Linked DNA regions of Homo sapiens. The protein of the gene in region 2 interacts with the protein of the main gene of each other region in a pairwise test. Each region holds a gene or a part of one and is shown on either strand. Other genes may lie near its edges.

Region 1 (3,656 bases), on a different chromosome or scaffold from region 2:
AAATCATACCAGGCAAGTTTTTATACAAAGATCAGGTAACAGTAACAGTATTTCAAATTAGGAAAGATACTATTCAGCACTTAAAACATGGATAATGTGGCTGAGAAACTACAGACAGTTCCCAACTTACAATGGTTTGGACTTAATTTTCCAACTCTCTGCTGGGTTTATTGCGATGTAACCCCATTCTAAGTTATGGAGCATCTATATATTTAAACAGCCAAATGAGACTCTACTAGACAGAACAGCACAGCTTTTAAAAATGTCAATCTGTCACACACACATAACAGACACGAATGTGCCTTTGTGGTACTACCAAGTCATCATTTACTGTTATGCATACTATTTGCTAGATCTAGTCTAAAGCATTAAAATAATTATCTTTTCGTCCTCTCATCAGCATTGTCAAATACAAACTATTATTCCATTAAATGCAAAAACAGAAGCACAAAAAGGCTAAGAAACTTGTCCAAACTCACAAATAATAAGTGATACAGCCATGCTTGAATCTTCGCAGTTTAGCTGTAACTGCATAACCCTCCAAAGGATTCAAATCAGAATTCAAACTATATCCACATACTGTATATGACTGATAGGTCTCTTAAGTCTCATAATCCTCAAGCAGTCCCTAATCATCTCCCCCAACTATCCCTAACCCTACCTATGCCATTTGTTCAAATAGCTTCATTTGTCCTATAAAATTCTCAATTATAGAGTTCAACGATTGACAAACATGTCACTCCATTAAACATCCTATTTCCTGCAAACTAACAATAGATCCAGGCGCTTAGTAAGATTCAGGTTCTTTTCAGGGTCATGAATACCTTGCAGGTGGTGGTGTGTGCTTTCTATGGCCTACCATTAGCAATGACAGTAAGACATATGCTTCTTCACCTTTATGAATTTTCAGAACGAGTTCCTGCCCTAGCAATCTCCAAAAATGAGTTATTTCCACCTTTATCATTATAACCTCATAAAATTTATATGTGAACTTTTATTCTTCTAACTTACTCTTTCTGGTAGTAGTTCTAAAGTGTTCAGCCTCTAAATTAAAATATTATTTTATCAGTCATACCTTAATAATTCAAGTCAATATAACATTTTCCTTTAAAAACTTTTTTTGCTAGCAAGAATGTATCATATAGCTTAACAATCTGGGTAGCTTTTCAAGTTACCTGTTTTTGCCTGGTAATTAAGTCCCAGTCATCAACAAGCCACGGTTTTAGCTCTTCAGGAATCTTTACTTTAACTTCAACTCTGTTCATGAATGTTTCCTCCTAAACAGAAACAGGAGGAGTATTAAAAACCTAACCTTTCTTGCTAAATACCAAACATGGAGGGGAGCTGACTTTTAGAGGCACTAGGGATAAATCTTAAAGTAGCCAAGCATACAGCTGTACTGTCATTTTTTAAAATCATTAATAAAAACGACCATACGCGGTTCGCTGTTGGGAGAAAAGAATCTGACCTGAACTATAGTCTATTTAGTGCATTTTCTTGTAAAGGTAAAAATTCTTCAGTAAGGTTCCTCTTGTTCAGGAAATGAAACACCCTGACTTGATACATTTTAACTTAGTATTTTCTTATTTACCATGGATATCAAAACTATTCCAAACACAACCATCTTAAAGGTACATCTTTAACTCCTAAAAATAAATACGTAACACCAAAGAAATAGTCTTGTAGGTGAACATGAAGCTTACACAACAAATGATCAATTGGGTAGGTAAATCTGGAGCTACAGGTGAAATAAAGATATACAGAAATTTATCCTTTACCCCCAAAAGAGAAAATTTTTAATTTCAGGTATTAACCATGTAAGCAAATCTTGTAGATAATCAAAGCTCCCATGGTTATGTCATGTAACTGAGACTAAAAATCCTAACATGCTATTCATAAACACAAGAAAAACTCACATTTTCAACAGTAGGATCTACCCGGGCCCTTTTCTTCCGAGGAGGCTGAGGGGTCTCACTGGTACTGCCACCATCTCCATTTCCAGGTGCTGTAAATGTTGGCGGGGAGGGGTCTCATTTAGCTAATTTAACAAACTCTATAAGGAAAATAGTCTCTTGACACATTAACCCTTTTCATTATTTCTCCATTACACAGCTGTTACCTCAATCTAAGTTAAAGAATCATATTCCTACCAAAAATACAACTTTCATGAAGAGCTCTACCGAACATTTAGTATAGACAACATTTAGTATCACCATCTTCCATTTATTTATAAATGTTATCTTCTCAGTGGGAGACATTAAGACTAAAGCAGATGAAAATAAATGCTCACAAGTTTCTCCTTGGCAAAAAGAGGTCTCTACCACCATGTACCTATTTTATAACACTGCTGTGAGACTCCTATTTGAGATAATCAATAAACATAAGCTTACTCCAAAATTTCATAGCTTTCAAAATAAAAACGTCAATGTCATAGAGGTAACATAAATTAACGTTAAGAAAGTTAATATTCTTACTTTTCTGTTTGTTCTTTTTCGTTTTCCTAAAAGGAGAGAAAAAAAAGAAAAATAATTATTTCCAGTAAAACTGCCTCTGTTTCAACTCCCTTTATCAGGGTTAAGTTCACAGAGAAATACTAACTTGGATAAAGGATCAGGTGGTAAATATGTGTCCTACTCAGACACAAGGATTTTTATTGATAGTTGGTTAAATTCCCATCTCTCTCCACATAATAGAAAAAAATAAACCAAGCCAGGCGCAGTGGCACATGCCTGTAATCCCAGCATTTTGGGAGGTGAAGAGGGGGTGGATCTCTAGAGCTCAAAATTCCAGACCAGCCTGGGCAACATGGCAAATCCTGTTCTCTATAAAAAATACAAAAATTAACTGGGCATACTGGCAAACGCCTATAGTCCCAGCTACTTGGGAAGCTGAGGTGAGAGGATTGCTTGAGCCCAGGAGGCCAAGGCTGCAGTGAGCCTTGATTGCACCACTGCACTCCAGTCTTGGTGACAGAGACCCTGTCTCAAAGACAAAAAAAAAAGAAAAGCAAACCAAGAACACTTTAGTAAACAACTTCGTTCTTCCAGGGTTATATTAATATATGTTATAGTATATACTACATTATTAGGCCCACCAAAAAAAAAAGGTGTCAAAGGTTAAAATTTTTTTCCAATTATTTTTGTTCCCCAAAATATTTTTAGATTTGTGTAATTTTTTTGTTTTAAGTCTCCTCATCTTGATTATCATCTCTAACAGCAACTTACCTCACGTCACTTATATACTGTCAAATGGTAAATTGCTAATTTTGCTTTATTTATTTATTTTGAGATGGAGTCTTGCTCTGTCTGTTGGGTGATCTCGGCTCACTGCAACCTCCTCCTCCCGGGTTCAAGCGATTCTCCTGCCTCAGCCTTCCAAGTAGCTGGGACCATAGGCACCCACCACCACTCCCAGCTCATTTTTGTATTTTAAGAGACGGGATTTCACCATGTTGGCCAGGCTGGTCTCAAACTCCTGACCTCAAGTGATTCGCATACCTCGGCCTTCCAAAATGCTATTACAGGCGTGTGCCACCATGCCTGGCCTAATTTTGCTTTTTTACATTATTATTTCTAGACCACAAAGGAAACAGTTTATAGAGCCCATGATTATGGATTACTTTCGATGGAAAGATACTATAACACCTGGATTTTTTA
Region 2 (3,656 bases):
AGACCTTACTACGTACAGGTAAATGTCACAACATCAACACCCTGACTGTGAATTGCTACCAAAAATAAGGCTGAATTTGAGGGAGGTGGTTATTTTAATCAAATGATTGTATTTCCAGGACTACTATAGAAGTCTACATAATCTTATTGAAAAAAATCAATGAGCTTTATGCTGACTGTTCTCACCTCTCCATCAGATGTTAGCACCAAAGAATGGTAAGACCCACAGGCAACTTCAATGACTTGTTTGTTTGACAGATTAGTAGAGATATGACAGGGCACTAAACCATGATTAGTTGTCCCATTGCCCAGCTGGCTATAAGCATTATGACCCCAGGTAAAGACTTCTCCTTCTGAAAATAAAAAGAAAGACAATCAGTTTTTTACAACATCTACTTCATTATACGAAAATATATGTAGCACAGCTTCCACAAATGAAATCTAAAAATTCAGGTGCAAAAAGCTAATCAACTTCCCCATTCCACCAAAGTCATTCTACAAAAGAATCTATTTGGAAAGTATAAACTGCATTCTACCTCAAAGCAACAAGGTGAAATTTAAATGCATGCAGTTATAATAACTGGAAAATAAGTTTTTAATAAAGAGCAGAGAAAAGGCTGCTGGGAGTAATAGCAAAAACATTAGAATGAAGTCAAATATTAGAAGGCCACTTAACTCCCCTAGGTCTTAATTTCCTTATCTTTAAAATAATCACCAAGTTGATTTTTAAAAATCTTTGTTATTATTTATTGGGTAGCATAATATACAGAAAAGTTAATAAAACATATATGTACAGTTTTACAAATTAGAAAGCACACACCCATGTACTACTACTTAAGTCAAGAAATATAACCTTATAATCACCCCCCAAAAGGCCCTCACATATGCATCTTGCATACAAATGTTTAGTTTTTCCTGTTTTTGAAATTTAAATAAATGGAATCATACAGTTTGTACTCATTTCATCTGTATTTTCCAGCATGTTGTCTCTTAGTGTTATATTCTGAATAGTGACTTCTCATTTATCTTCTGGTTTACTAATTTTACTAATTTGCTGTGTTCAAACTGCTACAAAATTTGTCCACTGAATTTTCATATTGATAATCATATTGTTCATTTGGATCTTTTCAAATCTTCTATAATCCCTGCAGATTATTTTCAAGCTCATTTTAATTTCTTCAAATAATAAATACAGCTGTCTTATAATTGGTGTCTGATAATTTTAATGCCTGATATTTAGTAATCCGTTCTTGCTGTCTGTTGTTTCTTCTGGTTCCCATTCATGGTACCTTGTTTCCTTGCATAGCAAGCCCCCCTTATCTGCAGGAGATACATTCTAAGACTCTCGTACTGAACCTGTATATACTGTTTTTCCCTATACGTATATACTTATGATAAAGTTTAATTTGTAAGTTAGGCATAGTAAGAGATTAACAACAATAACTAATAATCAAAGAGAACAATTACAAAATGTACTGTTCACAATGTCACAGATAGAAGATTTGTTCTTACCATAAATCTTAACAACCTCAGCATGGAAACTCTCCATTTTTCATTTAAAGCAAGAACCGTATGGTTTCTCTTTGGCATATCCAAATTGCAAGCATCACTACTCTTGCACTTTGGGGCCATTATTAAGTAAAATAAGGGTGACTTGAACACAAGCACTATGAAACCAAGAGAGTCAATCTAATAACTGAGACAGCTACTAAGTAACTAACGGGTGGGAGTGTCTATGGCAGAGATGCTGGACAAAGGGATGGTTCATGTCCCAGCTGGGATGGAGCAAGATGGTGAAATATCACCCTACTCAGAATGGCACACAATTTAAAACTTATGAATTGTTTATTTTGGAAATTTTACATTTATACTTTCAGACCACAGTCAACTGCAGGTAACTGAAACTTGAGAAAGTAAAACCAAGGATAACGGGAGACTACTGTATATCTGGTTATCTCTGACTATGTGCTGCCTATTGCCACTGAACAATTATTTTGGTTAATTCTCTCAGGCCTAGGATAAAGGTGCCTTCCCCTAGAAAGGATCTGCATTAACTTCTATCATGCCCTTAAGGCACTTGCCATCCAGTACCTTGAATAAATTCAAGGGTTGAGATTTCTTGGACCGTTCAGTCTTGATGTGAATTAAACTACAAATCCATGGTTACAACCTTTTGGGGAGAAGTTTTATTTATTTTCTTCCTTTTTTCCTCCTTGCTTCACTCAGAGCAAGGAATTTTTCTAGTCAATCCCTTATGAAGTGGCTAATCCCTACTACTAATGCCAACTACAGCCATCAGTCACTCTTTAGTGTAAGAATCACAGAATGCTAAGAGTTGGCGGGGGGATGTTGGACACAAGGTTTAGTCTTTCAATTCATAGATCAAGAATCCAAAGTTCAGACAGACTTGCCAAAGTCCACAATCAGTTCGTCAGTGTTTACTGGGCTTACAGCGTTGTCATTCATACATCTAAAATGCCAATGATTCCTAGATTCCATCTGCCACATCACCTTATGCTGGCATTCAGATACATTCATGTTTTATGGTATCCAAAACATAGTCAATTTCACAGGAAGAGCTAGCAACTCTCAACCAATTAAACAATGTTCTCAAGGGCAGCTGCGAATAAAGCTGAAATTCTACATGGGGTTCCTAGGTTACCTGTTGTTGCAAGGACAATATGTGGACCACTCCCATAGCTGAGGCAGGCTATTTTTTTGCCATTTAAAGAATCCAGTCTCCGAGGTTCAATGGTGCTCTGGACGTCACCTAACCCCAAACAGCCACAGCAGTTTGTGCCAAGCACAAAAATCTATGGGAAAAACCACTGTTAGTTCAAGCAGTTCTATTTCTAACAAATCTATAAATTACATCCAAACAGGAATCATCTTCCTTAAGCAAACTGCTTCTTTATATAATAAATAAAACCTAATTTCCATGCTTTTTTTTTTAACCTTTTATTCCTTAGTTCCCCCAAGATCTTCAATTTGGCAAATCCATTTCTAAAAATGTGAGTAGCTGATTTATTTTCTTCAAAATTACCTCATCATTTACTGTAGTGTATAAAACTTCATTGCCAGCACTGCCAAAGACACAAGCCTGACGAATTAACTGTAGTTCTTCTTCAGAACAAAGGGAAAAAATTGGCCACTTTCCCACATCTAACATCTTCAAAGATGACAGAGTAGCCTGTACTGGCTGAAAAGGAAAAAATATATGTTGAAATGACAAATTAAAAAGTGAATTTTCTCTGCCCCTTCAGTTCTGTAGAAGAGGGCGAACACTGGTTTTGGGAGGAACACACTGCATCCATTTTTGAGAGGCCTCTCGCAGCTGCAGGGATTGCCTCTGCCAGCTGCTTTTGGGCGGCTCACAGCCATCGAGCAGCGGAGGCCCGGATGGAACCAGGTCTCCCCTACTCATTGTCCTCAAGGACACAGGAGTCATCCAAAGCTGGGCTTCTGGGAACTGAATGTTCAGCAGATACTTTAAATATTGGCTATGTCTTAAAAGTAGCTGTGGAAACTAGGCTGGTTGTAAAAGCAAGAGAGACAGAGAGAGAGAGAGAGAGAGAGAGCTGCCATGTCATCTGCTCTCTAAGTCAAGAACAATGCTTGGTAAAGAACAACGCTGAAAGTGACACCAAGGAAATGGTC
Region 3 (3,656 bases), on a different chromosome or scaffold from region 2:
AAAAATGGTAGAATACAAGACTGGGCGCGGTGGCTCACACCTGTAATCCCAGCACTTTGGGAGCCCGAGGCGGGCAGATCACGAGGTCAGGAGTTCAAGGCCAGCCTGACCAATATGGTGAAACCCTGTCTCTACTAAAATAAAAAAATTAGCCAGGCATAGAGGCACATGCCTGCAGTCCCAGCTACTAGGGAGGCTGAGGCAGGAGAATAGCTTGAACCCGGGAGGTGGAGGTTGCAGTAAGCCGAGATCATGCCACTGCACTCCAGCCTGGGCAACAGAGTGAGACTCCATCTCAAAAAAAAAAAAAAGGTAGAATACTGTATAGTTATAATCTAGTCACCACGTATTTTTCCTAAATGAAAAAACTGGATAAAACAGTATGTAAAACACTATTAAAATATATTTCTATACACATATATCAAAATACTAATAGCAATTATCTGTGGGTAGTCAGATTATAGGTGGCTTTCATTTTCTTCTTCATCTCAGTGGTCACATTTTATGCCAGGAGTGCATAACTAAAGACCTCACATAACTCAAAACTCACATGAAACAAGATTAATCCTAACAGAAAAATTAATCCTATTTACCTGCAAAAGTGGTGCCACCATGTGGCAAGAACACAGAGTTTATAATTCACTTGGCCCCAGCTTTGAAAATAATTCTATACTTTATTGATTTGGGGGCAAAGGAGAATGGGAGGAGAAATTTATGCAAATTTATTCCTTGCATATATTAATATTCTGTACTTTTTTCCATTCACAATTCAAATTTACATTGCTTGCTATGCATAGCACTATACTGTTGAATTTTCCAATTTTTTGCCAAGTGTAACTATTATATCGATTACTTTCATAATCAGAATGAATCATTTTTTGAAAGAAAAAGTTCCCATTTATCCAAAGTCTACATTTAGTCACTTTAACTCGTTTAGAAAACCAATGACATTTTTATCTCTTTGGTTTCCTCACAGATGAGGATAACACTATAGTACTATAAAATGATAATTATGACCACTGCAAAAAACAGTATCTAATTTTATATTTGTTTCAGCTACCACTGAAAATAAATCAATTGCCCTGTGCTAGGGAAAAAATGCTAGGTAAAGAATAAGACCAAAGCAATCAAGAAAGCCCAGCTTTTTCAAACTACCAAATTATCAAGGGACCTTGAAATGCAAAATTCAACATCTACATATGAAGGCTTTTTTACAAACTGGCCGCTTTTTCAAGGAGCATCATTGCCAAGTAATTTCATAAATAATGCACAAAAAAGGCAAGATGTCTGAAGCAGTGTCTGCCTCACTATTGCAAATATTAATGAAGAACAAAAAAAGAATCCCCCGTTCACCTGGCAAACGAGTAGAAAAGCAGATGAAGTTATTTTTTGTTTTGTTTTGTTTTGTTTTGTTTTTGAGATGGAGTCTCGCTCTGTCACCCTGGCTGGAGTGCAGTGGTGTGATCTTGGCTCACTGCAAGCTCCGCCTCCCAGGTTCACACCATTCTCCTGCCTCAGCCTCCCAAGTAGCTGGGACTACAGGCGCCTGCCACCACACCTGGCTAATTTTTTATATTTTTAGTAGAGACGTGGTTTCACCATGTTAGCCAGGATGGTCTTGATCTCCTGACCTTGTGATCCGCCTGCCTCAGCCTCCCAAAGTGCTGGGATTACAGGTGTGAGCCACCGCGCCTGGCCAAAGATATTTTTAAGTCCTTCACAGTTGGTACCGTTTTATACTTGCCAACTGGAAGAGGAAGTGTTTTCAATACAATAAGCAATAGTCTCATACCTTTCATCCTTCTCGTGCAATATACTTAGGAGAAATGTTTCATAAAGAACTATAAATTTTAAAAAACATATACATCAAGAGGTAAGATTGGTTGAGTAAGAGTTATAAACCATCTTTTTTTTTTTTTGAGACAGAGTCTTACTCTGTCACCCAGGCTGGAGTGCAGTGGTGCAATCTCGGCTCACTGCAACCTCCACATCCCGGGTTCAAATGATTCTTGTGCTTCAGCCTCCCCAGTAGCTGGGATTACAGGCACATGAGACCACACCGGCTAATTTTTGTATTTTTAGTAGAAACAAGGTTTCACCATGTTGGCCAGGCTGATCTCAAGCTCCCGACCTCAGGTGATCTGCCCACCTCAGCCTCCCAATGTGCTGGGATTACAGGCGTGAGCTACCACGCCCTGCCATCTTAATTTTTTAAAATTGTTTTTCTACCTCATTTTCTCTAGTATCTCAAACCCAACAATCCTTGAACCCACTGTGCCCTCCAAACCACTTATCCCTTACATGTCACTGCCTTTCTCCATAAAGGCCTCACTTCCCTCTTTACCTAGCCTAACTCCTATGGTCACTCATTGTAATAACTTATCATCATTGAACCGCATAGGTACTCATCTCCCTTGTCCCTCTCTTGCTGTCATACTTGTTAGGCAAAAATTGCAACTGTGGTTAAACCTAATTGTTTGCTCACTCCTTTCCCGTACTCATGTAGCTGAAATGTGATGGGAAAAAGCACCAAATCAAATTTTTTTTAGAGATGGGGTCTTAGTGTGTTGCCCAGTCTGGGCTCAAATTTCTGGGCTCACAAGATCCTCCCACCTCCGCTGGGACTGAGGCTTGTAGCCAGGACTACAAGCATGAAGCCACTGTGCCCAGTATGACTGATCTAATTTTAATCATTATGATCTTCAACAAGTCCTTAATGCTGCCAAGTTTACATGCTGAGTCCATTCATTGTCCCACTCTCCTAAGGGGATTACTTCTCACATTATTGTCTCTCCTCAACCTCACACTGCAACCCCATCCACCGTTCCAGCTGATGTCTCTGATTTCAACTTCCTTAAGAATATTGAAGCAAGGCTGGGCATGGTGGCTCACACCTGTAATCCCAGCACTTTGGGAGGCCAAGGCAGGTGGATTGCTTGAGCCCTGGAGTTTGAGACCAGCCTGGGCAACATGGTGAAACCCCGTTTCTACTAAAAATACAAAAATTAGCCAGGCGTAGTGGTGTGCACCTGTAGTCCCAACTACTTGGGATGCTAGGAGACGGACACTGAAGTGAGCTGAGATCACACCACTGCACTACAGCTTGGTTGACAGAGCCAGACCCTCTCTCAAAACCAAAAAGCCAACAAAAAAAGAATACTGGAGCAATGCAATGAAAGAGTACTTACACAAATTCCACCACTATATCACTAATATGTCTACAGACATTTTTCTTGTCACAACTAGGAACAGCAGTACTATTGGCATCCAGCAATCAGAGGAGTGGTGCTGCTAAAACCTCCTGCAATACACAGGACAGCCCCCACAACAAAGTATCTAGCCGAAAACGCCAGTAGTGCTGAGGCTGAGAATCTCTGACACAGATGAACTACCCATATTCCTATCTAAAGCCTATCCCTCTGCTAGATTCCTTCCTCTCTTGTCTACTCCTGCAAGAATCCTCTCCCCAATTCCCCTATATCAAATTTTTGCTTTCTACTGGATCATAAAAGAAAAACTAATCCCTTAGCCTAACGTCTGCTGTCATCGTCTACCCTGTTTTTCTTCCTACCTTTTTTGAAAACTCCCCCACAGGGTAGCCCATACTCACTATCTCCACATCTTCTCTTCCCATTCTCTCTTAAACCATGCAATCA

What was found.
Region 1: the proteins of RCBTB2 (region 2) and MORF4L1 interact in binary tests that used the Homo sapiens proteins (3 or more experiments, as listed by UniProt).
Region 3: the proteins of RCBTB2 (region 2) and COPS4 interact in a two-hybrid assay, tested with the Homo sapiens proteins (one large-scale study listed by BioGRID and IntAct).

The regions. Positions count from the first base shown.
Region 1 is NC_000015.10:78,889,833-78,893,488, reverse strand, and holds part of MORF4L1 (mortality factor 4-like protein 1), read right to left. Parts: intron 2,501-3,656; coding exon 2,475-2,500; intron 2,006-2,474; coding exon 1,917-2,005; intron 1,278-1,916; coding exon 1,176-1,277; intron 1-1,175. UniProt on the Homo sapiens protein: Component of the NuA4 histone acetyltransferase (HAT) complex which is involved in transcriptional activation of select genes principally by acetylation of nucleosomal histones H4 and H2A.
Region 2 is NC_000013.11:48,512,544-48,516,199, forward strand, and holds part of RCBTB2 (RCC1 and BTB domain-containing protein 2), read right to left. Parts: intron 3,199-3,656; coding exon 3,043-3,198; intron 2,813-3,042; coding exon 2,662-2,812; intron 353-2,661; coding exon 186-352; intron 1-185.
Region 3 is NC_000004.12:83,052,103-83,055,758, reverse strand, and holds part of COPS4 (COP9 signalosome complex subunit 4), read right to left. Parts: intron 1-3,656. UniProt on the Homo sapiens protein: Component of the COP9 signalosome complex (CSN), a complex involved in various cellular and developmental processes.